Homo sapiens: one gene and its partners. The protein of the gene in region 1 purifies or fractionates together with the protein of each later gene. This does not show direct contact. Each region holds a gene or a part of one and is shown on either strand. Other genes may lie near its edges.

Region 1 (4,294 bases):
TCAAAACAAAAAACAAAAATTAGCCAGGCGTAGTGGCAGGCGCCTGTAGTCCCAGGTACTTGGGAGGCTGAGGCAGGAGAATCACTTGAACCCAGGAGGCGGAGGCTGCAGTGAACTGAGACCACGCCACTGTACTCCAGCCTGGGCGACGGGAGTTCAACTGGGCAACAGTTTCATTCAAAACTCAAAAAAAAAGGAAGGTGGGTAAGGAGAGTCCATTATGAACAATGTCATTTCTCTCTGCTGAGGAAGGGGCCTAGATAGTTCCAAAGCAGTCAGAGTCAAGTCTCTGGGGTCGTGGGCGCCTTGCCCTTCTGAGGTCAGGATGGTGTCTGTTTGCCCGTCAGTCAACACTCCCATGTGTTTTCCCCTTCTGTGTCAGTTCCTGTGCTGCTTCTCCTGCCTGGAATGTGCTCCCCTTCACTTTGCTATCCAGTGAACTCCTATTCAGCCCTCAGGGCCTGGTGTCAGTGTCATCTCTGTGATACTCCCAGGGGAAATTATTGTCCCCAGACCCTAGAGCAAGGTGCTTAAGAGAGTTGGGGTTGGGCAGTATATGCTTTTCCAGCCACTTTCTTCTTGGGTAAAGGGCACCTCAGTGTCCTTACCTGGGGCCTGGACCAATGTAATAGGGGCGGAGTTCCCTCTGCTATGGGATACCTCCAATAGGGGAGTGGTTTCCCAGAGGAGTTTGGGGTTTCTCAATAAGAATGTGACATTTTGGCTTCCCAGAAATGTAAAAAATAAAGAGTGTGACAGGGTGGCTGCTCTGTCTCCCCCAGACCCCTGTGAGAGGATAGACATTGTTTTCCTAGGGTCCAGACGGGAGAGGGAGCCTCACTCACTTATTTCACAGATATTTCCTAAGTGTTATATACCAGGCACTATCCTCGGGATGAATAAGAGAGACAAAGTCCTGGGCCTCATGAACCTCACGATGAGTGTGTGTATAGGGGGGAAAATACGCTGAACAAGTAATTAAGGGTTAACAAGTGTGACAAGGGGAAGCACAGCAATCTCTGAGGGAGGTCAGGGATGGCTTCCCCAGGGAGGTGGCGCTTGAGCTGAAATGGAAGGATGAAAGGAAGCTGGGATTGAAGGGTTTGTGGCACTGGCCTCAGGCAAAGCACGTGCTAGGGACTTGGGACCAGCTGGCTATCTGGGGTTCCGTGGGATCCAGGGATTGCTGTACCTCACTATTTTGAATACCCGAAGGGCAGAGACTGGGTTGACAGACTCTTCCCTCTGCCCTGGCCAGCACAAGGCCTGGCTAAGTGGCCTTGGATGATAGGTAATGCTCCAGTATGGGCCCCCAGAGATGGGCATCTCCGGATCCTAGACTCTCAGAGCTCATGGCCCGAGATGTCATAGGGAGCCCTCATGGTACATACAGATGGGGCAGCTGAGGCCCGGAGGAGGAAGTGACTTGCTCAAGTTCACATGGCCATCTAGTGTCAGAGGCAGAAGAAAAGCCCACAACTGCCAGGCCTTCAGCTTCTTCACTCCTTTCTTCAGACTTCAAATGGAAAATCGCATCCCAGAGAGGTGCCTCTGCTAGGGGTGTGAAGAGCTGAGAAGGAAGCAAGGCCAAGGGAGTCTTCCCTGCCCTCCCCTCAACACCTTCAGGGGCTCCTTCCAGCTCTCTCTCCCTCACCCTTCTCTTGGAAATTCCCCTTGGGCCTGAAAGGGGCTCTCAATCAGTGTGCTCTCCCCATACTGTACCCTCCCTGCAGTCCCTGAAGCAGGGCTCCTAGCAAGGGTTGAACTGTGGTGGCCAAGCCCTGTGACCCCAAAAATCTGCATTCTCTTGTCAGCAGAGGGCAGAGTGAGAGCCTCCCCTCAGCACTTGCTCCTTGGAAATCCCTCTCTCTCCAGACCCTCAAAGCTGTCTCAGCTGCTCATGGCCTGTCACATGCTAAAGAAAACGAATAAGAGGAAGCATTGTATGTTATTTGGGCCACAGTGAACATGGTGGGGTTGGAGGAGCAGGGACACACACCTTCCTTGTGCGGACCCAAAGGCCACCTCTAGCCCGTTGGCAGACTTGGGGAAGTCAGCCAAGTCCCTGCAGCTTCCTTGGTTAGGAGGAGTGAAATCTCTGTCCGCCTCCCCCATCGTTAGTTATACCCCACTGTACTCTATGCCCTTGTACTCCACTGTCCTGAGGGGCTGATTCATTAAAAGACTGTCAGCCCACTCACAGGGTGCCCATCTCTGTGCTTGGCATGGAAGGGGCGATAGAGACAGCTCAGCTCACAGAGGATTTAAACCCTGAATCTTGTAGCAAAGTGCGTGATTCCCAGGAGGCTCCTGGTAGGGAGATTACTAAGTGAGGCCTCCTGTCTGCTTAGGACACCCCCTCCTCCAAGTCTAGCCAAGTGAGGTCTTCCCCACCATTTTCATTTTTATTTTTTGAGACAGAGTTTCGCTCTTGTTTCCCAGGCTGGAGTGCAGTGGTGCGATCTCTGCTCACCGCAACCTCCACCTCCTGGGTTCAAGTGATTCTCCTGCCTCAGCCTCCCGAGTAGCTGGGATTATAGGCGCCTGCCACCATGCCCAGCAAATTTTTGTATTTTTAGTAGAGACGGGGTTTCACCATGTTGGCCAGGCTGGTCTTAAACTGCTGACCTTGTGATCTGCCCGCCTCAGCCTTCCAAAGTGCTGGGATTACAGGCATGAGCCACAGCGCCCGGCCCCTTTTATTTATTTATTTATTTTTTTGAGACAGTCTCGCTGTGTCACCCAGGCTGGAGTGCAGTGGTGTGATCTCAGCTCACTGCAACCTCTGACTCCCAGGTTCAAGCGAATCTCCTGCCTCAGCCTCCCAAGTAGCCGGGACTACAGGTGCCCGCCACCATGCCTGGCTAATTTTGTATTTTTAGTAGACACGGGGTTTCACCGTGTTGGTCAGGCTGGTCTTGAACTCCCGACCTCAGGTGATCTGCCCGCCTCTACCTCCCAAAGTGCTGGGATTACAGGCATGAGCCACCGTGCCTGGCCTTCCCCACCATTTTCTAAGAGGGTCACGAGGCATTCCAGCTCATTCTTGTGGTTCCTGGAGTTCTGGTCCATATGCCTTCCATACCACCTACTTCTTCCCACCAGTCCTAGCCTAGCCTGTCCTGTGTTCTTGGCAGTGGGCAGTACTCCTCCCACAGGATCCTGGAGCAAGCACTGCCTTTGCAGTGAAAGTATTTATGCGCTATCATCACTACCTCCGTCAGTATGCAAGCGTCACCGTTGCTACTACAGCTAATCTACAAGCCCCACCATCTCCACCTCCACCAGTTTCTATTAAACACATAGGTACACCTACTATGTGCTGAGCCTGGGGTTACTCAAAGGAGTCAGACAATCACTGCTCTTCAGGAAACTGTTCTGGTTGGAAAGGCAGACACTAAAACTATTGTCTGAAGGCAAGTTCTGGGATGGTGAACACGGGGTGCAGGGGAGCCCTGGGGTGTGATCAGTACTATATCAGAAGGCAGCACTAATGTCTGTGGGGCCTTCATTAAGGAAGCACTGAGCTGGGGGAAGAGGGGGTGCAAGGAAGACTTCATGGAGGAGCAGCATGTAGAGCAGGGCATTGAGAATGAAAAGGCACCTTTCAGGCCAAGGTGGAAGAGGGGATGGCAGGTGTGAACGCCTGGAGTTGTGTGCTGGAGGGTGGCAAGCAGTTTTGTGTGGTTGTAGCTCTGAGAAGAAGATTCTCATCTCAGAGATGAGGTCGGAGATGAGGCTGAACTGGTGGGCAGGGGCAGCTCCTCCAACGCTTCTTGTGAAGGCCAAGGAACCTGCCACACTTCAGAAATCCTTTGAGCCTCTTCACATACCTGTCCTCACTTAATTCATGCCAAGAAATTTAGACTTTATCCTTGGGTATTCCCTCTACTCCCCCATACTAACTGTTCTTTTTATGGGCCCCAGTTTCCCTATCTATATAAATTCAGGGAATTGGCTAGCTGATCTCCGAGGTCTTTTTCAGCTTTGACACTAGGACCATTTTCTCTGTGCAAAGTGTACACGCAGCTTGGTACACAGTGTATGCTCAATGAATATTTTCTATGGGTGAATAACTTGCCAGCCTTTCAAGGACTGCACTGTTGTCAACCTGAGACTCTAGCAAGAGAAGGGCCTCAGAGAGAGTTGGGTTTAGCTTTGACTCTCACATTTTGCAGGGAGGGAAGAGGGTTTGCTGGAGCCATCGGGCATAAGAGGTAGCACGGTATAGTGGAGGGGCTTGTTCTGGTGGCAGGAAGGATAAGCCATGTGGGGTCTAGAACTGAGGGCTCTA
Region 2 (4,084 bases), on another chromosome or scaffold:
TTAAAAATACTAACCCATTAGATAACCAGCATACTTTTATAACTACTCTCTATCTTTGGCAGAATATTCAGTGTCATCTATGAATCCGCTTAACTAAGCAAACATAAACAGTTAAATAGTCGTCTAAATAAACAAGTGAGACCACCACTTGCAAGCCCTATCTGCCGTATTCCTCCCTTGAGATATCTGGCTCACTGTATCTGACACACAACTATTTACTTTATAGACAGAGTCAAGGCACCAATGTCAGTGTACAAGAAAAGTAGTAATGATGTTAAATTTTTTAAGGAAAAAGAGATATGTGGAAGTTTTGAATATTTTCTTCCTACACTTCAGCGGATACCCTTGAAGTGTAAACACCCCACTCTAGAGAACAACATGGAACATCGCTGTAGCCCTTTTTTTTTTTAAGATGGAGTCTTGCTCTGTTGCCCAGGCTGGAGTGCAGTGGCGTGATCTCGGCTCACTGCAAGTTCCGCCTCCTGGGTTCACACCATTCTCCTGCCTCAGCCTCCCGAGTAGCTGGGACTATAGGCGCCCGCTAACATGCCTGGCTAATTTTCCATGTGCCCCTACACAGTTTTACGTAATCATTCTAACATAACTTACAGATATAACACTTTAAAACCCTCTATGACTTTCACTATCAAATTAATGCACCATCCTGGGCTATTGTGTGGTAGTACAGGTTGATGTCATGTGTCATCTCCAATGAGAGATCACTGGAGGAAGAGATTTTTACCTATTCTGTCACATGGAATCTAGCATGATTTTAGAAAATGTAAACGAATGAAGATTTCTGTTCTCTTTTCTCAGCTTTTACAAAGTCTGGCTCCAGAGTTGCTAGATTATTTCTGAGACACTTAAATGTATATAGACTTACATGCTTTGTATCTATCAAAGCCTGTGTTAGAATTTAATTTAGAATGTTGTTTACAAAACCATAGGAATTTCAAAATGGAAATGTTCCCAAGGAAGTTTACAAGAGAAAGAAGAAGAAATCTATCTCGTTGGAAAGGCAAAAGCCAGTATTAGCAAGGAGGGGAAATAATTACATTGTCTTTCTTATAAACAACTTGGTAGTTTCTTCCATTTTTATAAGATGAGTAATGAGCACTGATGAATTAAACAGATTTGCTCTTTCCCCCTTATAGGAAAAGGCATTAATAGCTGCTCAGCTGGACAATGCCATTGAGAAGGAATTACTGGAGAGACTGAAACAAGATACGGTGAGAAAGCCATTAGCTTTGGGGTACTGAAATTTTAAGTGGTAGTATGTTGCTAAGACATATTGGGAATTTTTTTTTTTTTTTTTTTTTTTTTTTTTTTTTTTTTTTTTTTTTTTTTGAGATGGAGTCTTGCTTTGTTGCCCAGGTTAGAGTGCAGTGGTGCAATCTCGGCTCACTGCAACCTCTGCCTCCCAAGTTCAAGCAATTCTCCTGCCTCAGCCTCCTGAGTAGTTGGGATTACAGGCACCACCACTGCACCCAGCTAATTTTTGTATTTTTAGTAGAGACAGGGTTTCACCATCTTGGCCAGGCTGGTCTTGAACTCCTGACCTCGTGAGCCACTGTGCCTGGCTGGGAAATGTTTTTTAACATGATATGAAGATCTCCACTCGAATTTTATCCCTGGAATAAAATAAATCCATATCGGCCTGGCTTCCTTGCTTTAATTAATGCAAGCACATAAAATGCTTTGGTTACCCTTGATACTCCATTCACTATAAGAGACCTTTCCCTTTTTGCCATTATTCTCAGCTCCATTCCCCAAGACAACAATTCCAGATTTCTGTATAAAAGCCATGGGGTTTTGCTTCTCCTGCATATTACCCTAGTCTTTTAAGGCTCTTTGAAATAAGTTTTTATTCTCTTTTTAAAAATTAGTGTTGTTTATACAGACAACATGACTAAAGTATGCTTTTTCCTTATTATTTCCCCTTGTCAGCAAAATGACATTTGTCCCAATGCATGGGTTTTGTAGACTATTACATTTTAAATTATTTTAAAATGTAACTCCATAGAAGTTACCTATTTGATACTAACTGCAGATGATTTAAATGTTCAAAAGAACATGCTTTTTTAAGACACTGCTGGCTCTACACTTAAAAATATTACTCATCAAATTAAGTATTCTGATTTAATCACTGAGGAAAAAGTAATATTCTCCACAGAAAGTGGAACTTCAAGTGTAATATCCAAATGTAGTTAAAGCCAATCTGTGTTTATGTTCTTCAGTATGGCGACATCTACAACTTCCCCATTCATGCCTTCGACAAAGCCCTGGAACAACAGGAGGCAGAGAGTGACTCTTCAGATACTGAGGAAAAAGATGATGATGATGATGATGAGGAAGTAAGTCTTGTTTTTGTTTTGCCAAACCTACTAGATACCATTTGTATAAAACTGAGAAACAGAATATCATCTTCAGTCCGCTAACCAAAAATGATATGTCTTCTTTTTTCTTTCATGTGATTAATTTTGGTTTAGCACTGGTTGCTCTGTTCTTCAGGCTAACCAACAAACCATTAACAATTTTAGTCTTAATTTATTGGTCTTCTAAAATTGTTCCTGCAAGGTGACAAATTATAAAGCCTTTCCTGTCTATATGTAGTTTTTAACCATAATGAGGATGTTTTATTGCTAATAATTTAAATCAAGAATAAGAATGATCTGGTAGCCCTAAAATTTTTAAAATTCAGAAGCATTAAATTTAGAAAGAACTAAATTTTCATTGCCTAGTGAAAAGACTGTGGTTCTCATTATGTTATTTTGTACTTACTTAGATGTCTAATCTGAATCTTCATTATGTATTCTGAACCTAACAGTTATGTTTTATTTATAGGATGTGGGGAAAAGAGAATTTGTCGAAGATGGTGAGGTAGATGAGAGTGACATAAGTGATTTTGAGGTGAGCTTTATGGGTAAAAAGATTGTCCTTTGGCCTGCAGCAAAAAAAAAAAAAAAACAAAAACAGGGAGGTGGCCAGGCACCGTGGTTCACTCCTATAATTGCAGCACTTTGGGAGGCCAAAATGGGAGGATTGTTTGAGCTCAGGAGTTCGAGACCAGCCTGAAGAACATAGTGAGACCTCATCTCTAATAAAAAAAAAAATTTTTTTTTTTAGATGAAGTTTCGCTCTGTAGCTCAGGCTAGAGTGCCATAGTGCAATCTGGGCTCATCGCAGCCTCAGCCTCCCGGGTTCAAGCGATTCTCCTCCTTCAGCCTCCCAAGTAGCTGGAATTACAGGCATGTGCCACTCCACCCGGCTAATTTTTTGTATTTTTAGTAGACACGGGGTTTCACCATGTTGGCCAGGCTGGTCTAGAACTCCAGACCTCTGGTAATCCGCCTGCCTCAGTCTCCCAAAGTGCTAAGATTAGAGGCATGAGTCACAGGGCCTGGCCTAAAATTTTTTAAAAATCATGACCAGGCGTGGTGGCTCACGCCTATAATCCTAGCACTTTGGGAGGCCGAGGTGGGCGGATCACATGAGGTCAGGAGTTCGAGACCAGCCTGGCCAACATAGCAAAACCCCGTGTCTACTAAAAATACAAAAATTAGCTAGGTATGGTGGTGCATGCCTGTAATCCCTGCTACTTGGGAGGCTGAGGCAGAAGAATCGCTTGAACCTAGGAGATGGAGGTTGCAGTGAGCTGAGAGCGCACCACTACACTCCAGCCTGGGCAACAGAGCGAGACTCCGTCTCCAAAAAAAAAAAAAAAAAAAATTAAAATTCAGCTGGATGTGGTGGCGGTTGCCTGTAGTCCCAGCTACTCAGGAAGCTGAGGTGGGAGGATTGTTGACTACAGCAGTTTGAGGCTGCAGTGAGCCATGACTATGCCACTGCACTCCTGCTTGGGCAACAGAGCAAGACCCCGTCTCAAAAAAAAAAAAAAAAAAAAATTAAAGAAAGGGACAATTTCTGAACACAGACATAGACAAATCAATGCCCTAGTCTGTTCTAGATTGAGGGGACAAGGAAGGGAGTTTGGAGAAATCTAGTGTTTTCCCTCTTCCTTTATCTTTTCTCTCCCCGTAATAGGATATGGATAAACTGGATGCCAGCAGTGATGAAGATCAGG
Region 3 (4,294 bases), on another chromosome or scaffold:
TACTTTTTTTAATGCAAATTTAATTTTATTCAACAAATGCAGATGAGTACTAACTGTTTGCTAGACTCTGCATTTGAGGACAGTTTAGACCTTGGAAGAAGGATCTGTCTGGTCTCACTGTGAAAGGTGGCTTGCAAACCCTAACCCTAACCCTAACCCTAACCCTAACCCTATCACATACACATCTAAGCTTGTAATAGCTCTAAGCCAACTTCTTTGGTATATTACAGTTTTTTTGTTCTGGCTGTATAACTATTATTTTTACTAATGAAAACATATGCCACTCAAATGAAAACTTAATAAATATTATATTAAAATGTTTAACTACAAAATACCCTTAATACATAACTGAAAATTCAGTGAGACAATCTTTCCTTTTTAAGGACAGGAAAGTGATTGTGAAAACAATGAAGACTTATGTTGAAAAGGTGGCTAATGTAAGTATAATAAAACTACATATTCTAATTATTTTTGATAGTAAGATGAATTCATGTCTATTATAGAAAATTTGGAAAAATTCAGAAAATTACCAAGCAGAAAATTATTGTTTTATTATATTTTTCTTTGCATCTACATGTATTTTCATATTTTATCTACACAAAATGGAAATCATGTCACATGCATTCTTTTCTCCTTTTTTAATTTAACATTGTATTGTGATAGTTCTCTACTTTTATTAGATATTCTTTGAAAACCTGATATTTACTAGCTTTTTTGGTGAATTTGTCCAGTCATGTTAATTAAATATGGGAATTACTGCCTGGATACAGTATGTACATATTTTAGTCTCTGGGTAAATGATGCCAGATTGCACTTCAGAAACTTGATAGTAGTTTTCCTTATGACCAAAACCATAAAAGAAATTAAAATGTATCTTTTTTTTAAGAATAAATTTGCAGTGTGGTTATGGAAATTTTTAGTTGTTAAATTTTATAGCTCTTTAGAAATGCAGTAACAATTTTCCTAATGAAATTCATAGGTACAAAAGTTTTTTCTGGGGGATTTGTTGCTTCAAAAATAGTGTTTATATGTTTTTAGTTATTAAATAATTTTTCATGCTGTTGCTATGGTGTACTGTAACTAGAATATATGTAGTGAATACAATTTTAATTTTTGAGTTATACTTTATATATTTGATGGATAACAAATTTCTAATTTATTGATGAACTAAAATTATGTAGTAATCAACTACTTTATCCTTTGAAAACATCCAGTGAGAACTACTAGCATCTGGGGAATACTTCAACTTGTTTGAAATACTAAATCAAACAAGTTAAAATTAATGCTGTGTGATTGTGTACTTGACTATTGTCTTCTGTTGGGCTAGAAATTAGAAGAATTCAGAAGGCAGCTAACGTTCCTATAATAAAGTGAAATATGGAATTCTCATATTTTTTATAATTCATAATTCAATATTCATATATATTTCATAATTCATAATTATAATATGAATTATAATGTTATATATTATATAACATTATATTATTATGTTATAAATATAAATATAATTCATAATTATAATTCATAATTCAATATTAAGTAAATTTTTTTGCGTGACATTCTAATTTGAATACCTTACATTAAAATGAGTAAAAACTAGAATGTTAATAGAAAATTCACAAAGGTATTAAGAGTATAACATTTTAAAATAATAAAATTATATTGTTTTAGTTCTACAGTTTGTTTATGTCAGGTAATTTAACACTAAGTACATATCTTTTTAAATCTCGAAGAGTTACTTCTAAAGGGGTGATAAGCTAACGTTACCCATGGATTTGATCCATGGATTATTTGGAATTATTAATTTCCAAATATTGGGGGTTTCTGGATATATTCTATATTCTTTTGTTCCTTTTAAATTTACTGAGACCTGTTTTATGGCCTAACATATGGTCTAAGTATTTTGAAAATAATATATTGTAGAGTTGTTTGGTGGGGTATTCTATATTTGTCAATTAGATCAAAGTAGTTGACAGTGTTCATACCATCAGTGTTTTTACTGACTTATTATTTTCTAGTTCTATCAGTTGCTGAGAGAAACATGTTAAAATTTCCAACTATACTTGTGGATTTGTCTGTTTCTCACTTACATTCAATTCTGTACCACCTTCTGTTGTATTCACCTAGAAATATTTTATGCTTGGTTATGCTTATGTGTGTCCGAGTTAAGAGAACTGAAACCAGTGATTTTGTACTAGGCACGTTGTTCTATATTTTGTCTCCTTCACTTAATTCATATTATGGGTCATTTTATTTCAATATACATACATCTGTCTACCTCACTTTTCTTAGTGACTGTAATATTTCATCGTGTGCCTATACCATAATTTATTTAACCAGTCCCCACTGTTGGGCATTTTGGTAGTTTCTAGAGTTTTTAAAATTACAATTAGTACCCCAGTGAATATATTCATATGTAAGTCTTTGTACTTACATGGAAACACGTCTGCAAGATAAATCCCTAGAACTAGAATCACTGGATCAGCTCATACCTGCATTTTAAATTTGTATAGGTGTTGTCAATTGCTCTTCAAAGAAGTTGAACCACTTTACATTCTCATCAACATAAAAGCGTGCCTGCTTTTCCCTAAACCTTTGATAAATTAGTCTATTGTCAGAGGTTTTCACCATCACCCATAGGATAAATGGCATTTCATTGTTTTAATTATTGTCCTTAATTAGTTCATAAAGCATTATTTCATACATTTAAAGACATTTGTACTTCTGTTTTAGTGTGATCTGACTCTTCATGTTCTTTTTTTTTTTTTTTTTTTGAGACAGAGTCTTGCTCTGTCGCCCAGGCTGGAGTGCCGTGGCGCGATCTGGGCTCACTGCAAGCTCCGCCTCCCAGGTTCACGCCATTCTCCTGCCTCAGCCTCCTGAGTAGCTGGGACTACAGGCGCCCACCACCATGCCCAGCTAATGTTTTGTATTAGTAGTAGAGATGGGGTTTCACCCTGTTAGCCAGGATGGTCTCGATCTCCTGACCTCGTGATCCACCAGCCTCAGCTTTCCAAAGTGCTGGGATTACAGGCGTGAGCTACCGCACCTGGCTTTGCCCATTTTTAGTTGGTTGTTGGTCTTTGTATAGTAAGACCTTTGTTGTTTGTCTTCAGTTTGTCTTTTTGACTTTACAGTTAGCAACTTCGTTATTGTTTCTAATTGAAATTGTATTATCTGTGATATTTATCAGATCTGGCTCTGAATGATTGTGGGCTATTATCAAAAATCAAATTCCTATCAGAGTTTGAAACAATTATATCAACATCCAGGATACTCATGCCACAAGCTCTGGAAACAGGTTTTTGTTTTCTTTTGTTTTTGTTCTTAACATAAAGTAGGTGTTCTTTAAATGTTTGGAACAGTATTAGCATCATGGAAATAATTTTATTTCAAAAGATGAGTGTTGTGAAAGCCACATGTGTATTTCTGTGATCTCATGCAGCTATACTTTTTTTAAAGTAATGATTTTTATATCATTCTCATTCAGTGTATAATTATACTCTTCTAGTTTATTTTTTCATATTTATATTCTAATTTTGTGAGATCACTTTAAAGAAATTGAGCAATATAGAAAAGAAAATTAAAAATCATTTGTATAACCCAGAGATGACTATTACAATGCCTTGCCTTCCAGGATTTTCTGTGTACATGTATTATGTATATCGTGTGTGTGTGTGTATGTGTGTAAAATTGTATGAGTTTATATTTTCTTTTTCATGATTGGAGTATCATATATGTGTTTATATATGTAGGTTTTTTGAAGTTAATCTTATAACTTGAACTTTTAAGTATAATTTTCAAGTAGCTATTCATTAACAGTAACCTATGTAAATAGGTATTAGTTTTAGACTATTTGGTAATGAATAATGTGCTTTAAAAAAAAATCAACCTTACCTCTAGAATATAATTAATGAGGTCGTGATAAGAGAGGAAGTTCATTAAAATGGCTTTTATTCATCTTGTTATGTTAGACAAGTTGTCAATGTAGGTAATCTTTTTTTTTTTTTTTTTTTGAGCGGAGTCTCGCTCTACCTTTATGAAGATATTCCATGTGTGAAATAAGAGGGAAGATCTATGCACTTGTTTTTAACCTTTGCTGGCTTCCAATTCTTGCAGGGCCAATACTCCCATTTGGTTTTACTGGCGGCATTTGATTGTATTGATGATACTAAGCTTGTGAAGCAGATAATCATATCAGTAAGTAATCCTGATGGTCTTGAATTTAAGTTACATCGATAAACCAGTTGTGGATGTGTAAGCTTGATTTCACCATGCATGTGTAAAGACTTGC
Region 4 (4,294 bases), on another chromosome or scaffold:
ACTGTCAGAGTCTCCTAACTGGCCTAGCCACGATCACTTACACCTCACCAGCTACCCCCCAGCAGCCAGTGTCCCATCTCCTAGAAACAGAACGCTGACCAAGCCACCTGCTCACGGGGAGTGTAGGCGGGATGAGTGTCTGTGAAAGTGCTGCTGAACAGGAGCTTTCTGTCCACGTTCATTTCCCTCCTGCCCTCCACTGTTGGGAGACTCAACTGCATGCCCTCAGAGGCGGGAGACAACCTACATGAAAAGAAACCTGGCAAGGGCACTTTCATCGTCGGCTCCACCCAGTAGCCATCACTGAGGTGGATTTCAGAGAGCACCTGATTGATCCCTGCTGAGCTATGCAAAGCATGTTTGTTCTTGGGAGGGCCTTGACTCTCCCACCGGCATCTGGCATCTCACTGGCTCCTGGCAATACTGGCCTTTTCCTGTTCTCAGACAGAAAGGTGCTTCCCCTCAGCTTGGTCTAGGACTTAGGGAAAGCATTCATATTTTCTTTTCCAAAACTATTTCTATTTCTCTGTGGCCCATCCTCGCCTCTGAGTGCTCTGAGGTGGAACCCGATGCCCTGCACCAGGAGGCTCCCTCTTCCAGCCTGACTTTTGGTCCATTTCCTCCACACCTAGCTCTCCAGGCACAGGGGGCGTCAGCCTTCCCAGCCTTACCTTAACTCTGCCCACTGTCCCTCTTACAGCACGGGACGTCCTCATCGTTCTGCGAGCCCTCCCGGCTCTCTCACCCACGGAGCCATTCGCCTTTGTGTGGCCACTGTAAGCCCCACACACCTGGACTTACTCTCACAGGAAACTGCTCAGAAGCCTGCCTCCTGTCTTGGCGATGTACAAACGCCCAGGCCCAGTAGAGGCTCCGGAGACGCCCGTGCTGCGGATCCACCTTGCTGCTCCCTGACACACGGGGAGCCTCCCCTCCCTGCCATCTGTGATGCAAGCAAAGAGCCCCTTGGCAGGAAACCCAGGCTGTGGCCCTGCCATGAAGCGCCACACCAGCTGCCTGCAGCTGTGGGCCTCTGTCATCTCGCATCATCCTCATGGAGCCACGGGAAGGTAATGAGAGGAACTAGGACTGCAGTGTGAAGACCCTGGGCACACAGAGTTCTCACTTGGGTCAGCCAATTGGAAGGCAGCTGGGAGGGCCAGGAGAAGGCGACAAAGTGGCAGGGGGTGGAGGTGGGGTTACCAAGGGAGCAGGGCCCCCGCTGCAGCTTCCTCTGTTCTGGCAGGTGAGGCCTACTCCCGTGCCCTCTGGTGCCTAAGTGAGCCACGATATTGGTAGTCCAAGGTGAGCACATTCCTGATGCCAAGTCATATTTAAAAATAAAATCCAAGCTTTGCATCCCTTTTGAGAAAGACCTGGACGATCTCCCCATCTGCTCGGGTTTCATTTGGGGAACAGCGGAGAGCCACAATGGCAGGCTGCAGCCACACCCGCTGCAGCGAGCAGACACACATGGCCAGGTCTCAGGCCCAAGAGCCCGGCCGGGATGTAGATGGAACTACTCTCTCTCCGTCGCTCAGGGCAATGCCCTCTGGGCTCCTACCCTTCATAACTCCTTCTCCTGAGTCCTCCATAAAGAACCCTGGAGAATGGGGTGCCTTCACCACACATTCACCAGAGTGTCCTCTGCAAACTCGACCACTGCGGCCACATCTTATTTCTGTTAGGATCTTAAGAGCAAGGACTGTTCTTTTTCCCGCATTTATCTCTGAAATTGTCTCCACATTTATCTCTGCTCAGGACAGGGCTGGTACATGGTAGATGCTTCAGGAAATATTTGCTGAGCTAAAATGAAGGATCTGGAGTTTAGAGGACTCCTGTGGGCTTGCGCTTCAGACTAACCCCTTGGGAAGGGAAAACTTAAGTAACAGTTTCCCCTGCTTGGCTAAACCCAGGGAACAAAGATTCTGGGGTCAAGAGAGGATTCTCTGTGCAGCGCTGGGGGCGGGGGCAGGAGCTTCCTGCTAGGCACACCAAGTCTCGGGAGGTGTAGAGACCCACCTCTTGGCCAGCAGTTTGTTCATTTCCTCCATGAGGCCTCCTCCGCCACCCCCGCTGCTTGCCCGGTTGGCATCGGACTTTGAGGTCCCACTGGGACTGGAGCCTCCAGATGCGTCTTCTGGCTGAGGAAAAAGGAGGCCGCGTTTTAGATTCTGCTGCTGATGGCAGAACAGGAGCAGCAACGATGTGAGGGGATGCAGGGGACTGTGTGCGTGTGAATCCTATGGCAGCAGCACTGCAAGGGGCCTCAGGGGCCATCTGGTCCATTATTCTCCAACCCCACAGGGGAGAAAACCAGAATCGAGAGAGGGACAAGGACCAGCCCAGGTCACACAAGTCGCAGACACTCCCCAGGCCTGCAGACTCATGGTTAGTGTCTTTGCCAAGACCAGCCATGACACATGGAGGGAGGGAGGGAGGGGAGAAGAGACTATCCTGTGGGAAGGAAACACAATGTAAGCCAAAGGTCTGTATTAGAGCTATTCTTACAAGCACAGTTCTAGAACATATGAGCAAGGGTTAGGGAAGAAACAGCCGGGTGGACCTAGTTGCCAGCATACAGCTTCCTACAGTGGAAAGGGCAATGGACATAGATTCAGGAGACCCAGGCTTGAGTCCAAAATCTGCAATTTGTAAACGGTGTGACTTGAGCAAATTACTCGTGCTCTTTGTGCTTCAATTTCCTCATCTCTAAAGGGGGACATAGTTCTTGCCCCACGTGTGAAGGTCAACGTGAGGCTCAAAGGCTAACTTCATAATTTCAAAGTGCTGTCCCATGTGATTTCTCGTTTGAGAACAAGTGGCCAAGGGCCAGCTAGCTTTGGGCAGGGAAGCAGTTTGCTGTGTCTCGCAGATGCGGGAAGGAACACAAGCGCTCTGCAGATGGCACAAGGGTCCCCTCGGTCCCATTCCCACCCCGCACACAGGAGCTCTTACCCGTTGGACTCTTCTCAGCTTGGCCCCAGCTATGGCAGCGGCCAGTCCTGACATGGAGCTCTCGTCGTGGCTGGACCCCTGGGCTCCTCCGGCTGGCAGTGGGGGTGGGGGAGGTGGGGTAGCCCCAGTGGGTGGAGGTGGGACTGGGGGTGGGGGGGGCGGTGGAGGCCCACTACATGAGACGGGGGCGCTGGCTGCAGATGAAGGATGTCCTGGTGGGAGGATGGGCCCTGAAACACAACAGTGAGGCTCAGCCAGCTCCAGCACCCAGCTGGGGGCCAAGCCTGCTGCTCTCAGCTCAGGTTCCCCGGAGGAAGGACAGGGGCAGGCTGCTCCCCAAAGGGATGAGAAACAGCTCCAGGCCTGCTTCATCCAGGAAGCCTCCGCGGGATGAACTTGGCTCTGGCACAATTATTCCCTATTCTGGTGTCCTCAGTACTCCGGGGCCTGGCTGGACCCACAGGTGTCCTCTATTTGCTTAACATTCCTTGAGCCCAGGCAATTTCCTCTTGCTCCAATCATGTTTTTCCAGGGGGAGAGGAAGCTGTCTGGTTACAGTCTGTGCCTCTTCTCTTCTCTGCTCCTTCTAAGCACCTAGCACCCCCTAGGCAGAAGTTGGTCACCAAGATCCAACTGTGACTGACACTTGGGTCGTTGGGGGCCGTGGCAGGTCCTGTGGGTCCCAGGGCCGACTGGGGGCATGGGTCAGGGCGCAATGCCGAGTGCTGGGCTCCAGCATCATCCATCCAGCCCCTTCCGCCAGTGCTGCCTAAGCCTGTTTTGTGCCAGGCACTGTGCTAGGTGCTGGGTATGGTGCTGAGGAAAACCAGCCACAAGCTCTCTGCTCAGGGTGCTCACAGCCTATGAGGAACAGTCAACGAATCGCAGAGGTAAACGCAGATGGAGGACTGTGGCAAGCTGACAAGTGTTACCAAGGGCAGGCACACGGCGCCATGTTGGCATACAAAGAGGGGCTCCAGCCTGGCCAGAAGTTCATGGAAGACGGACGTCCTCCATGACGTCCTCACGGAAGTGACTGTGGAGCTGGGACACGACCGGAGAGCAGGGGTTCAGTTAGGTGAAGGGGGGAGGCAAGTGTGAGGAAGGAGGAAAAGGATGGGAAGTGCTTGCGAGGCACTAGAGGGAGAGAGGGCAGGCACAGGCTGTTCCAAGAGTGATGGGGAAGGGACGACATGATGACAGTGTCAGACCTGCATCAGAAATGCAGACTGGCCGGGGAGCAGGAGGCCAGCAGCAGCTAGGTGGGGGTGATGGGGTCAGCCAGCATCTCACGAGCAGAGCGTTCCTGTAACCAGTGGGGGCTCGGGTTTCTCAT
Region 5 (4,294 bases), on another chromosome or scaffold:
TTGCCTCCTTTTGGCCATTAAACAAATGTGTATAGAGGGCCTGCTATGTGCCATGTGCTATGCCAGGCACTAAGGATACGGCACTGAACCCTCTTAGCACTCTCATTCCAGAGGGGATTAATCCATAAGTAGAATGGGGGTGACTGGAATAGGGCCAGCTGGGGGCTTGGAGGCATGAAGATCAGATCCTGAATCAGAACAACAGGAGAAATTCTCTGGCATTCAACTCACATCTCTGGCATTCAGAGGTGATAAAGGCTACAGCAGGGCAATAGGACTGGGACTGTCGTCTCCTTTGGCTGTGCTGTTGCCCTCTAAATGTACCCTGCTTTTTCCCACCTTTTCTTTCTCTGTTCGCCCTCACTGTGCCTTGTCCCAGCATTCTCAGACACCATCCACATTGAACCCCACAATGCCAGCCTCTGAGCGGACAGTGGCCTGGGTCTCCAACATGCCTCACCTGTCGGCTGACATCGAGAGTGCCCACATCGAGCGGGAAGAGTACAAGCTCAAGGAGTACTCAAAATCGATGGATGAGAGCCGGCTGGATAGGGTACGATGGGCTCTACCAGCTCCAAGCCCCAGTGTTTCCTTTTACCCACAGGGGAGATCTCTAGTCACTTCCAAGGGAAACCTCCAGGGTCAGTTATGGTGGTAAGAAAAGGCAAAGACCTGATCACCTCTTGAGAAGCCTTCCGTCCATCTGGGGAGACCAGATACACACAGTTGTTAAAAGTCACTTTCAACTCTATTTTGTAGGTTATATATATCATAGACTATCTGGGGATCATCTATTTTAGGCTTACCTCCATGTTCTTCCCCAGGAGGAACATAAGCCCTGGCTCCTGTGACTGCTTAGGAAAGGAAATGTTACTTTACTGGCAGTAGGAGCTAATAAATTGGATGGGGATGGAGGGGGTTGCAGCTATATTACAAGTGATGTCTGGCCTACCCAGTCACTGTCCCATGGGCATAAGTGACAGTCAGTGGGCAGGGAATGCATGTGGTAAAGTAGTATGTATCAGTCATGTGTGAAAAGACCATCCAGACCCTCACTTGGTGGAGGCTGAGGGCAAAGGGCACCAAGAGCTCTGGGGCTAACACAGATAACTTAGCAGAAAGTTACTTGAGGAAGCTGTTGTTCCTAGGGCCTGAGGAAGAGGGCGGCTGCAGGATTAGGTCATATATAAAGAACATATGATCCTAACACGGGGAAGTGGTCTTTGAGCATAGGAAATGTTGGGACTGACTCAGATGGGCTTGACCAGCAAATTTAATGAGAATTAAACCCTAATATTAGCCCCAAGGCAGCCACCGTAGGAAGTTAATTCACATCTCTCCTCTGCATGTAGAAGGGTTGGTGATATATGTATGTATCCTCTTCAGAGAATGAGGAAATAGTCTTTTGAATCATTTTTTTTTCTGTGCTTCAGATGAGGAAACCTTGTTGAGAAAGGCTGTAGACTAGCACTATCCAATATAACTTTCTGCAGTGATGAAATGTTCTGTAATCTGTAGTGTTCACATGTGTCTAGTTGTGATTCAGGAACTGAATTTTTAGATCTATTTAATTTTAATTTTGTAATTTTTTTGAGACAGGGTCTTGCTCTGTCACCCAGGCTGGAGTGCAGTGGTGCAAACATGGCTCGAGGCAACCTCCGCCTCCTGGGCTCAAGACATCCTCCCACCTCAGCCCCCTGAGTAGCTAGGACTACAGGGTCGTGCTACCATGCCTGGCTAGTTTTTTTTCTTTTCTTTTTTTTTTTTTTTTTTTTTTGTAGAGACGGGGTTTTGCCATGTTGCCCAGGCTGGTCTAGAACTTGTGAGCTCAAGTGATCTACCTGCCTCAGCCTTCCAAAGTGCTGGGATTACAGGTGTTGAGCCACTGTGCCTGGCCTAAATTTTAAATAGCTACATGTGGGCTGGTGGCTACCATATTAGACAGCACAGCTGTAGACTCTAGAGCCAATAGGGCAGATAAAATGACTCTTCTGAGCTCTTCCAGCTCTGGAATTCCTAGATTCTCAGCCTAGAATTCACTTGTAGACCTCCTATCCTTGGCACCTTGACAGAGCCAAGGAGAGGGTCACATGGAGGACAGCACCTGCCTTTCCCCCGTCAATTGCCTTTTCTTCCTATGTCTCCAGCATGTGTTCTGGGGCCTGGCTTAGGGCTGAAGAGTCACCCTATTTTTAATTTCTGAGCACAGTTACTCAAGGTGTGTTTGTGAGTGTAGGTTTCTGTGTGGGTCTTCATGAGGGGCCATACATAGACCTCAGGGTGTGGGAGTCTGTGACCTTGCTCCATTTTGAGGGAACCTCAGCACCATGGCAGGGTCTTCTCAAAAGCAGGTGTGTGGATATGATCCACAGGCAGGGAAGGGGTTGGGGAAGGCAGCTGGATGTCCCTCAACATGCAGTGGCTGTGCTTGGCAGACAGGGATGGAGGCTGGGTGGTGGGCTTGGGGTGGGGCGCCCCTCATAGTGCGGGGTCGTGTGCCCGGCGGGCAGGTGAAGGAGTACGAGGAGGAGATTCACTCACTGAAAGAGCGGCTGCACATGTCCAACCGGAAGCTGGAAGAGTATGAGCGGAGGCTGCTGTCCCAGGAAGAACAAACCAGCAAAATCCTGATGCAGTATCAGGCCCGACTGGAGCAGAGTGAGAAGAGGCTAAGGCAGCAGCAGGCAGAGAAGGATTCCCAGATCAAGAGCATCATTGGCAGGTGAGGGGCGGCCTGGGGAGGGGGTTGTGAGGGAGAGCCTGAGGCTGGAGAGAGCAAGTGGGTGAGCTACTCCGCTGACTCCCATCCCCAAACTCAGGAGCCCACCAGGAGAGCCCACCACTCTCCTCCCCAGGAAGCCACCCACTCACTCATCACCAGATGGAGAGAAACCCCAACCTGCTTAGTGCATTAAATATCTCTTTACCAAACCCTGACCTCTCTTCTGATAGAGTAGCTTCGGAAGCCCTTGGAAAATGTACCTGTTCCTGTCCAACCATCACTGCATTTGCATTTACCCTAGGCCAGAGCTCCCCACTAGTTATTCTCAACTTAACCTGTGATGTTCACTCCAAACCTAAGCAGGGCTCCCTAGCCAGAGTAGGCCCTGCCCTTCCTGGGTGGACCCTCCCTCTCTAGCCTTGGAAAGGTGTTCTGTTAGAAAGGGTCTTTTAGCCTGTGTATGTTTTCAGCTGCTCCAGCAAGTCCTGGGCTCCAAAGAGGGTATCCTCAGCAAAGAGGTCAATTATCTTCAGAGTGGTGGGGTCGGGGTGGGGGGGACCCTGGGCGCACTCCAACCAGAGCCACCTCCATTTTGATCCATTCTAAATGTATTTTATGTAAGATTTAATTAGAAGAAAAGGGCTTCTTGAAATATTTTTTGAAAACCACTGCTCTAATTGATATCCTTTATGATAAATCACCTCGAGGATCTTCACAGTGAGGTGACATGGGGGATGCAGAAGCCAGGTCCTCAGCCATGGAAGGTCTGGGGAAGGGGCACTGCTGTCCTGATTGGGACGATGGAGGCCTGGAGGTGTCTGGATGGTAGAAGTCTTTGAGGCACAGAAAGCTGCCTTAGCAGGGAGGTGTAAGGGTTCCTGGGAGGAAGGTGGAGAGCATGATCCTGAGGAACAGGGAGTCTTGCATCACGGCAATGGAGGGACTCTGATTCTAAGGGATAAGGATGCCTGAGGTTTTTCCAGAGAGCTATGGGGTTCCATGGGCAGGCTCTGAGCCTGTGCCCGCCACTAACCCCACTGAAGCCCGTCCCTTCAGGCTGATGCTGGTGGAGGAGGAGCTGCGCCGGGACCACCCCGCCATGGCTGAGCCGCTGCCAGAACCCAAGAAGAGGCTGCTCGACGCTCAGGTGGAAATTACAATGTCATTTATCTTCTCCGTGTCCCATCCCCATCCATCCCACTGTCTTTCGTGCACTCACTACACCAGCCACCTAGCCCCATCACCATCTGTCTCTCATAGTCTGCTGTTTGTCCACTGGCTGCTCCTGGCAGCCCCCTAGTGACCCCATCTTCATCCCATCGTCTGTGCCTTTGTCACTCCTGGCAGCGTCAGCCCAACTCCTGTGCCTTCCCATCCAGTCTTCCCACTCCTCTCTGCATCTCAGGACCTTCTCTACCAGAACCTTGGTCTTTCTGCCCCTAGACCCCACCTAGTTCCAAGAACCCCTGCCCCTTCTTTGCTCACTCCTATTCAAGCCACGTTGTTCAGCTTCCTCTGCGCTCTTGGGCCAGAGGGCTAGAAGCTGCCGTTTTCTGGAATAGAGCACAGGGC
Region 6 (4,294 bases), 4.8 Mb from region 1:
CCCAGAGAAACGGGATCTGCATGAGAACACAGCTTCTTCATCTCCCTGTCCGTGACTTCACCCTGCACTCTTCACCCAACCAATGACCCTCACTCCAGCCCACTCCAAAACCCTTAAAACCCTAACCCCAAACTCCTCGTGGAAATGATTTCAGGATTCCTCCCATCTCCTCCTTTGGTGACCCTACGGTTAAACTTCTTTCTCTGCTGCAACCTGGTGGTGTCTCAGCATATTGACTTGCTGTGTGCATTGGGCAACAAATCTATTATGGTTACAATAGTTCTTAAGAATTATCTGAACTACTTATCTACACTTACTGACTACATACGGAGGAAGGGCTGAAGACAATGCCAGTGTTTCCACACAGGGTCCCAAGACAGCAGTGATACGGACATCCAGAATGACCCTAGAATCCAGCTGCTAACTCAAAACCTCCAATGGCTTCCCACCATGACACCCTCTCCTGGCCCACGACATTCCAGCCACAGTGACCTCCTTTCAGCATCAGGACACACAGAGCATACTCCTGCCCCAGCTGCTCTGGATGTGCTGTTCCCCTTGCCTGGAACATTCTCCCTAGATACTAGCATGGCTCCTGTCTCATATTAAGGGCTCTGCTGAAGTGCCACTGCCTCAGAGGCCTTCCCCGACCACCCCAAAGTACTCCTCATCTCCCCCAAACCCCTTAGCCTGGTTTAGTTTTCCTCACAGCACGCAAGACTTCCTGACATTATATGTTTATCTGCCTACTGTCTCCCTGTGATATAAATGTCACACTTCCTGGCACAGAGCTCCTAAGACCCTTGGAATTTCCCAAGCGATGGGTATCTTTTTTATTGATTACAAGCCCCTTTCCACCACACCTGAGTTTATGCTAATGTGGTGACTCATGGTAGACCCCTAGATAGCTTCAGGATGGGGGATGCGCTGGTCACCAGAAAGACAAAGCACTTGACCACATGGTTGGTGCTTTCAGCCACTCAGAGGAGAGAAGGGAGACCAGAAATTGAGTCTATCACCAACTGCCACAGATTTCATCAGTCATGTCTATGTAATGAAACCTCCATAAAAACCCCTACATGATGGGGTTTGGAAAGCTCTGGGTTGCTGAACACATCAATGTGTGGAGAGGGCATGGAAGCTCTGTGCCTCTCCCCCATACCTTACCCTGTGCACCTCTTCCACTGGCTGTGACTGAGTTTCATCCTTTATCATAAACCGTTAATTGTAAACACAGCACTTTCCTGGGTTCTGGGAGTCCTTCTGGCAAATTATCAAACCCCAGAACCCCTGAATTTGTAGTTAGCCGGGCGTAAGTGTGGATAGCCTGAAGCTGCCATCTGAAGCAGGGGACCTAGTCCTTAACTTGTGGGGTCTGTGCTAACTCCGGGAGTTAGTGTCACAACTGAATTAAATTGTTGGGACACTCAGCTGGTATCTGAGAACTGCAGAACTGATATGGAAAAAAATTATGTATTTGGTGTCAGAAGAAACCACACACTCCCCTGCTGGAATATATGTGCAGGAGAGCAGCAGCTTGTCAGTTTCTCACCACAGCACCACCAGTACCCAGAAGAGTCTGTGGCCAACAGGAGACACTCAATATGGGATTGCTGGGTGAATGTATCAGTGAATTAATGAATGAAAGATGCAATACACATGAAGAGGGAGAGAAATTTTTGTTTGGTTGTTTGATGGTTTGGGCAGGGAGAAGGGAGAATGTCAATTAACATCAGTTTCAGGCTAACTTTCAAATGCTGCAGAATACATTCAACTGAAAATACCTAGCTGCAACTGCAACTTGGAATGGGGTCAGGTGAGAGGAAACCAGCACTGTATGGACCCAACGACACTAGCAAGCATAGATGCACAATTTGAAGCCACCATTTCAAGAGACTTGGCTGGGTTCTGAAAAAGGTCCTAGAACCAGAAAGGCAAAACGTTAACGTTGAGCCTTGTGGCGGCCCACTGCCAGGGTGAGGGAAATGGGGATAGTAGGAGAGCTTCTGGCCCCAGCCTTCAGTCTTCTTTCTCCGACTATCAGTAGTACCACTCTCCTTTCCCACTGGATCACAGGTTTTTTGAGGGCCAGGGCTGTTTTTCGTTCCTATATTCCCTGTGCCTGGCACATAGTCGATGCTAATAAATGTTTGTTAAACAAATGTTATCTTAGCAATGATTCTGTTTCGTAAGCATAAGAAAAGATACAGGTACCAGAAGATCACTTACATTTAATGAGCCCTCTTTTTCCAAGGCCCTAAAGGCTAGTATCTAAGTTTGGTCTTCTCTCATATGTCTACTTATTAGTCTCCAAATGCACCCCCTAGCAAGGCCATGGCACTGGCACTCTAGAATGAGAGAGGGTGGAGTGATCGCCATGGGCCAGCAGTGGCTCCCAACAGTGCTTCACCCTCAAAAAAATTTTTTTTTATTTTTTTGAGATGGAGTCTCCCTCTATTGCCCAGGCTAGAGTGCAGTGGCACGATCTCGGCTCACTGCAACTTGTCTCCTGGGTTCAAGCAATTCTCTTGCCTCAGCCTCCCGAGTAGCTGGGACTACAGGAGCGTGCCATCATGCTAGGTTAATTTTTGTATTTTTAGTAGAGACAGGGTTTCACCATATTGGTCAGGCTGGTCTTGAACTCCTGACCTTGTGATCCACCTACCTCGGCCTCCCAAAGTGCTGGGATTACAGGCGTGAGCCACCCATGCCCGGCCCCAAAAATATTTTTATATATTTAAAAAAATAATAAAATGAGAGACACCGCAGCTGAATGAATACACGCTCTATGAAGAGAGACAATCACAAGCTACACCAAATCTAGGTCAGGACCCATGCTCCCCAGAGGTGGGCCCACCCTGCTCTTACCTGGGGGGCCACAAGTGGCTCTGCATTGGGTGGCTTGACAAAGAAAGGAATCCGGCCCCTCTGCCAGTCATTGAGGACCATCTTACCCACAGTCTGCAAGTCGGGCTCTCCACCCTGAAAGGTCACAAAGAGATTCCCAATTAAATTCAAAGGACCAAAACCACCTACCACTTTGGGGGTATTTCAGTTGTCCCAGGGGTTCATCATCACTTAAGTGACAAGTTTCACACTGCTCATACATGCATACCAAAAAAAGGCCCATATCATATACATACATGCTTGTGACAAGTATCAGTCTAAATTCTCACAAACGCCGGGTCACCTTTAGTAACTTCCCAGTCCGGAAAGCGAGCTTCTCAAGAAAGTCCTCAGCATTCTCCCAAGAATCAATCTTGTATGTTTTGCTGATATATTCTGGCTTTGCTCGTTCAAGTACAGCACCAATGTGGTCTTCAGGACTCTTAATTTTTTCTACTTGAACCTAAATGTTAATAGGAAATCTCTCACTTACAAACTTTGTTGTGGAAGCAGTGAAGTTCCCAGTGTCCTTTGCAGCACTATTTGAAAATAGACTTCAACATCACAAAGCTCGTGGAGATTGGCAGGAGCCTGTCTCTGACGGGGCTAGACATGGTCAGCTGCAAGGAGCACTGCTGAAAGCTGACCATAGCCACGGAGCCCAGAACTCAGCTTTAATCCCCACTCACCACAAACTAACTGTGTGGCTGCCACAGTTTAAACTTGGAATGCTTCATGTTACTCACTTGCAGAAATGGTTAAAAGCCTGCCCATCCCAGGACACAAAAATAATGGAATAGTTTAAGAAAGGAGAGGAGGAATGTGTACAGGATGTATAGCCAGAAGCATGGTCAAGGTTAAGTGGAACCATTTACAGTTTTTCAGTCGTATTCAGAAACAAGTGAGGAAATGACTGGGTTCCAAAATGACTCAACCCATAAACCCACGAAGACGAATTATCGCTAAGCATAAACAGGCCCTGCTTCCCTTTGGATCCTGTGTGTAAACTACAAACTCTTTTGTGGGATGATATTGACCAGATATGCCCATGGTTCCACTAATTCCTCAAACAGCTTATGCTGAGAGGCTGCTGTTCAGCATCATGTTCCTAAAGTTTGGTCAGACAGGCTGACCCCAAACTGCCTTCTTAATAAGTAAAAAGGAAAGGTATCCAGGGTTCCCTATAGAACACTCCCCCGCAAACACAAACAGCCTATCAGGGCCAAATACTCACAACTCCTTTTAGCACAATGTCTGTCTCGGAGTCCTCAGAGGGGTAAACCACACCTGGACAGTCAATCAGGAATATCCGACGCATCAAAGTAATATACTGCCAGACCTGAAGTCAGAAAAAAGTCAGAGATGTCCTGTATCAAACACTAAGAGTCTAATTTCACAAACCCCTGAT
Region 7 (4,294 bases), on another chromosome or scaffold:
AGTGCCGTATAAGTTAACAATTTCACACTGATTTTTTCCCATATAAATGGCTTTGGAAGAGCACAAATAGTTGAACAACAATAGCTCTATCATTTTTGAAATGTCCTTTGAAGTCAGAGCCTAAAGGAAATAAGATTGAGGCTAGAAATTACTTTGAGCAAAACTAAATTTTAATAAAAATGGAAACTGATGGCCACAGCCATGATGTTTTTCTCTAGGCTTCTAATGTTAAACTAAACCCACGAACTTTCTTTTTAAAATTTTTTTTTTAGACAGTCTCACTCTTTTGCCTAGGCTGGAGTGCAGTGGCACAATCTTGGCTCACTGCAACCTCTGCCTCCCGGGTTCAAGCAATCCTCCTGCCTCAGCCTCCCAAGTAGCTGAGATTACAGGTGCCCACCACCACGCCTGACTAAATTTTTTATTTTTAGTAGAGATGGGGTTTCACCATGTTGGCCAGCTGGTCTTGAACTCCTGACCTCAAGTGATCCACCCACCTCAGCCTCCTAAAGTGCTGGGATTACAGGCATGAGCCACCACGCCGGCCATTCCATGAGCTTTCTGACCACAGTAGATAGAGGGAAAGCAGAAAGGACTTCAAAGATTTTGTGGGTCAGCAGAACCTTTTGCAGTCCTCACAGTTTACAGACTAAGGCTGGTGTGAATCATGCATATTATAGGTCAGACTCAAGAGGCTGAGCAAACCATTGCTTCTGTTCCTAAAAGCGATCAATTATTTTGGCTTCTTTTAAACCAGTCCAATTTTTTTAAAAATAAGAAATATATTTTAAAATGTTTCTGCCAGCTCTTTATACACTGTGGCTGCTGCTTCTTTTTTCTCTGCAGTGTTCTCTGTCTTCATCAGAAGAAGAAAGATTTATTTCCATCAGGAGACCTAAAACACCAGCCTCAAGTGACTTCTCCGACCTTAATACTCAGACGAACTGGACCAAGTCGCTTCCACTGCCAACACCAGAAGAGAAGATGCGACAGCAAGCCCAAACAGTCCAGGCTGACGTGGTGCCTATTAACATAACTGGTACGCTTTGCTAGCCAGACAGGTTCAGAATGTACTTGGGAGAATGACTACAGCTTTTTGTTTTATGCTGTTAGCATTTCATTGCTACATCAAAGGTGAATAGCTGTGGTCCAACTTCATGCTCTTTGTTTAATGAGAGGAATATTAAAACTACATATGTGTGTGCATATAAAATGTCTACTGCTTGTTGGGTTCGAAGACTATGTCGCCAAACACTGGTGTCAAAGAACTCAGTGGTCCAACCATTCATCTTAAGAGTGTCTCTTTTAATTAAATTGCTTTTTAGTAAGCCTTTGGTTATATGGAAACATCTTGTAAATGTGGTCCTAGGTATGAAGAAAAAGTATATATTTCCCTTCTAAAGGGTTAAGTAATATTTACAGAAGTAAATAATTATTTTGTGATGTTTCTAATGATAGATTTTCTAGAAATTTCCTAAAGTAGAAAAAAGGAGACATTACTTATTTCTTCTGAATATAAAATTTTCAGAATATGTTATATTAAGCTAGACTACAAATATTAATTGCCAAACCTGAAATTCAAGTTCTTATGGAATATTATACTCAGCCTGTAATCATTTGTGACAATTAAGGTGACAAGGTACATAAAATTCAAAGATGATCTTTCATGAACTTAGGAGAGCTGCTAAAAAGATAGCAAAATTGGCTGGGCGTGGTGGCTCACACCTGTAATCCCAGCACTTTGGGAGGCTGAGGCGGGCAGATCACCTGAGGTCAGGAGTTTGAGACCAGCCTGGCCAACGTGGTGAAACCCTGTCTGTACTAAAAATACAAAATTAGCAGGGCGTGGTGGCACGTGCGTGTAATCCCAGCTACTCTGGAGTCTGAGGCAGGAGAATTGCTTCAACCCGGGAGGCAGAGGTTGCAGTGAGCCGAGAGATCGCACCATTGCACTCCAGCCTGGGCAAAAAGGAGCAAAACTTCACCTCAAAAAAAAAAAAAAAAAATCAAAATTTTCCTGCCTTATCACCTCCATAGCCCACAAGGAGCATGGGTTAGTGGTTTGGGGAGGGCACAAAGTGCAAAATAGACATGTGAAGAGTTAATAGCTTCAACTATTAATTGAATTGTATGTTTGATGGAAGCAGATGACTAATAGTGGTCATTGATAATCAAGTCATACAAAGCAGGGCCCTTAAGGCCAGAAGCTAACAAAAAAACTAGGTGACCAAAAAGAATGAGTTTTCCTGAACATTTACTCTGGAAACCCATAGCATCCTTGCTGTGCTTCTGAGGCTACTGCTGTTAGAAAGCTTTAGAAAGCTTTTTGCCATGGCACTGGTGAGCTTGTAAGGGGCTAATAGCATTTTCATAGTCACCGAAGATTTTTTTTAAAACCTTACCAGATATTTAGAAATTACATTTAGAACTCATATTTTAAATTCCATAGAAATTTAATAAATAAGTGCATGAATTATTTTCAATTCAGTATATATTTTTCCACATTTATTTTACTTAAATCTTAAAAGAATAGCAGGGCATTTTAAGCCATTTTCTCAGCAAACAGTGTTATTGATCTTTCTGAATATGTTTCTTATTTACCGAGATCATATTTTTTAAAGATTATTTTTAAAAGTATAACTATGTTTTAGAACAAAGTATAATGTGTACTGGTCAATGAAATACAAGGCTGCTTATTTTCTATAAGAAAATGAATTACATTATTTGATTGATTAAATGCAGCAGAAATGTAATTACATTATATATAATTAAGTGCCTATGAAATAATATTATAAGATAAGAAGATTGTGCAATGAAATATGACAATCCTTAATGGAATTAAGGTGAAATGCATTATCTTGAGATTAAGAGATTTAAAATAGAGTAATTAGAGTTTCAGGAATGAAGAATTATTTGCAATGAATTACACTGTCACAACAGAAGACAGTGTCATGTCTCTGAGCTTTAATTCTATCCTATCTGATGACTAAGTAGAGATGAATTAGACTTTAAAGAGAGGCCTTTAAAATGCTACTCAGGAAAGGTGAATGACAATAAAGAAAGAGCAGTATGAGTTATGTCAAAATGTAATTTACTTTTAATCGAGTGATTAACATTTTGCAGAAATGCCAAAAGTAAATATAATACCTAATCACGTATTTATTGATCCATTTTCTACATCTGTGTGTTCACATATACACACATATTTCTTAAAGAATTAGTTTTTCTAATCTGTCATAAAGAAGCAATAAATTTAAAATTTTCACTTTTAGTGGTTGAATTGACATAGGTTATACAGCTTCCTGCTCTTTAAATTATGTATTTCTAAAGTCCTAGAAGATATTTGAGATTAAAAAAAGAAAATTCCTCTAGGGAACTGTCATGTGCTCGTTCGCTGGGGTGAGCATTGAGCCTCTAGTTTGATTTTCCTAGTAAGGCTCAGCAGGAAAAAAAAAAAAAAAATGGCGATTTCAAATCCAGAGTGCAGCCCACCATGCATAGAGGTAGAATGTTAGCACCATGAGCTGCTGGCTTGAAAATTGATTTAATCCCTTTAGTTATAGTCTTGTGGGCACTCGGCATGTTCTAAAACTGGAGGAAAAAATACTTAATATGTACATATAAATATCTTCTATCATCTGCTATGTGGGACAACAACTCTTCCATCTGGAAGATAAGTGTAGAGGATAAACATACTTAAATAATTTTTACAAACTGGCTTTGTGCTGGTGTTTGAGCTATCCAAGTTTATTTCTTTTTTTTTTTTTAATTTAAAAGAGTTTAATTGAGCAATGAACAATTCATGAATTGGGCAGCCTCCAGAGCCAGAGTATGCCCACAGACTTTCAAGTTTATTTCTAAATAGTAACCATGACTGATGAATGCCATTTTTCAATTAAAGGCAGTGAGTAATTCAACAGATATTTATTGAATAACTGCTTTGTGCCAGGCATTAGCTGAGTGCCATAGGGGATGCTAAAGTACATGCATCACAGTCTGTACCCTCAAAAAATGTATAATCCAGTAGAAGAGACTTTTAGGTCATGATGCAAGATCAAGCATTTGGTGCCTTCAATGACGTGTGTCTTAGGTGTTCATCCTCAAATGGTTTGTTTCTTAATTTTCTGGGAGCTTGGGTGATTTTATCTTTTGTCTAGGAAGCAAAACTGGAGACTAAATGCAACTTTATTTTATTTTATTTTATTTTTTGATATGGAGGTCTCACTCTGTCGCCCATGCTGGCATGCAGTGGCGCAATCTCGGCTCACTGCAACCTCCGCCTCCCAGGCTCAAG

Evidence for each region.
Region 2: the proteins of NHSL3 (region 1) and MAK16 purify together in Homo sapiens (affinity purification with mass spectrometry; one large-scale study listed by BioGRID and IntAct). This does not show direct contact.
Region 3: the proteins of NHSL3 (region 1) and PUM3 purify together in Homo sapiens (affinity purification with mass spectrometry; one large-scale study listed by BioGRID and IntAct). This does not show direct contact.
Region 4: the proteins of NHSL3 (region 1) and EVL purify together in Homo sapiens (affinity purification with mass spectrometry; one large-scale study listed by BioGRID and IntAct). This does not show direct contact.
Region 5: the proteins of NHSL3 (region 1) and SYNGAP1 purify together in Homo sapiens (co-immunoprecipitation; one large-scale study listed by IntAct). This does not show direct contact.
Region 6: the proteins of NHSL3 (region 1) and GNL2 purify together in Homo sapiens (affinity purification with mass spectrometry; one large-scale study listed by BioGRID and IntAct). This does not show direct contact.
Region 7: the proteins of NHSL3 (region 1) and NHSL1 purify together in Homo sapiens (affinity purification with mass spectrometry; one large-scale study listed by BioGRID and IntAct). This does not show direct contact.

The regions. Positions count from the first base shown.
Region 1 is NC_000001.11:32,748,111-32,752,404, forward strand, and holds part of NHSL3 (NHS-like protein 3), read left to right. Parts: intron 1-4,294. UniProt on the Homo sapiens protein: Able to directly activate the TNF-NFkappaB signaling pathway.
Region 2 is NC_000008.11:33,494,388-33,498,471, forward strand, and holds part of MAK16 (protein MAK16 homolog), read left to right. Parts: intron 1-1,154; coding exon 1,155-1,229; intron 1,230-2,237; coding exon 2,238-2,354; intron 2,355-2,844; coding exon 2,845-2,910; intron 2,911-4,044; coding exon 4,045-4,084.
Region 3 is NC_000009.12:2,819,924-2,824,217, reverse strand, and holds part of PUM3 (pumilio homolog 3), read left to right. Parts: intron 1-383; coding exon 384-437; intron 438-4,119; coding exon 4,120-4,200; intron 4,201-4,294. UniProt on the Homo sapiens protein: Inhibits the poly(ADP-ribosyl)ation activity of PARP1 and the degradation of PARP1 by CASP3 following genotoxic stress. Binds to double-stranded RNA or DNA without sequence specificity. Involved in development of the eye and of primordial germ cells.
Region 4 is NC_000014.9:100,127,413-100,131,706, reverse strand, and holds part of EVL (ena/VASP-like protein), read right to left. Parts: intron 3,189-4,294; coding exon 2,959-3,188; intron 2,145-2,958; coding exon 2,023-2,144; intron 1,376-2,022; exon of another isoform or gene 1,247-1,375; intron 1,071-1,246; exon of another isoform or gene 1-1,070. UniProt on the Homo sapiens protein: Ena/VASP proteins are actin-associated proteins involved in a range of processes dependent on cytoskeleton remodeling and cell polarity such as axon guidance and lamellipodial and filopodial dynamics in migrating cells.
Region 5 is NC_000006.12:33,444,065-33,448,358, forward strand, and holds part of SYNGAP1 (ras/Rap GTPase-activating protein SynGAP), read left to right. Parts: intron 1-379; coding exon 380-553; intron 554-2,510; coding exon 2,511-2,722; exon of another isoform or gene 2,723-2,734; intron 2,735-3,765; coding exon of another isoform or gene 3,766-3,778; coding exon 3,779-3,869; coding exon of another isoform or gene 3,870-3,872; intron 3,873-4,294. UniProt on the Homo sapiens protein: Major constituent of the PSD essential for postsynaptic signaling. Inhibitory regulator of the Ras-cAMP pathway.
Region 6 is NC_000001.11:37,571,475-37,575,768, forward strand, and holds part of GNL2 (nucleolar GTP-binding protein 2), read right to left. Parts: intron 4,226-4,294; coding exon 4,121-4,225; intron 3,350-4,120; coding exon 3,191-3,349; intron 2,983-3,190; coding exon 2,869-2,982; intron 1-2,868. UniProt on the Homo sapiens protein: GTPase that associates with pre-60S ribosomal subunits in the nucleolus and is required for their nuclear export and maturation.
Region 7 is NC_000006.12:138,443,746-138,448,039, reverse strand, and holds part of NHSL1 (NHS-like protein 1), read left to right. Parts: intron 1-846; coding exon 847-1,039; intron 1,040-4,294.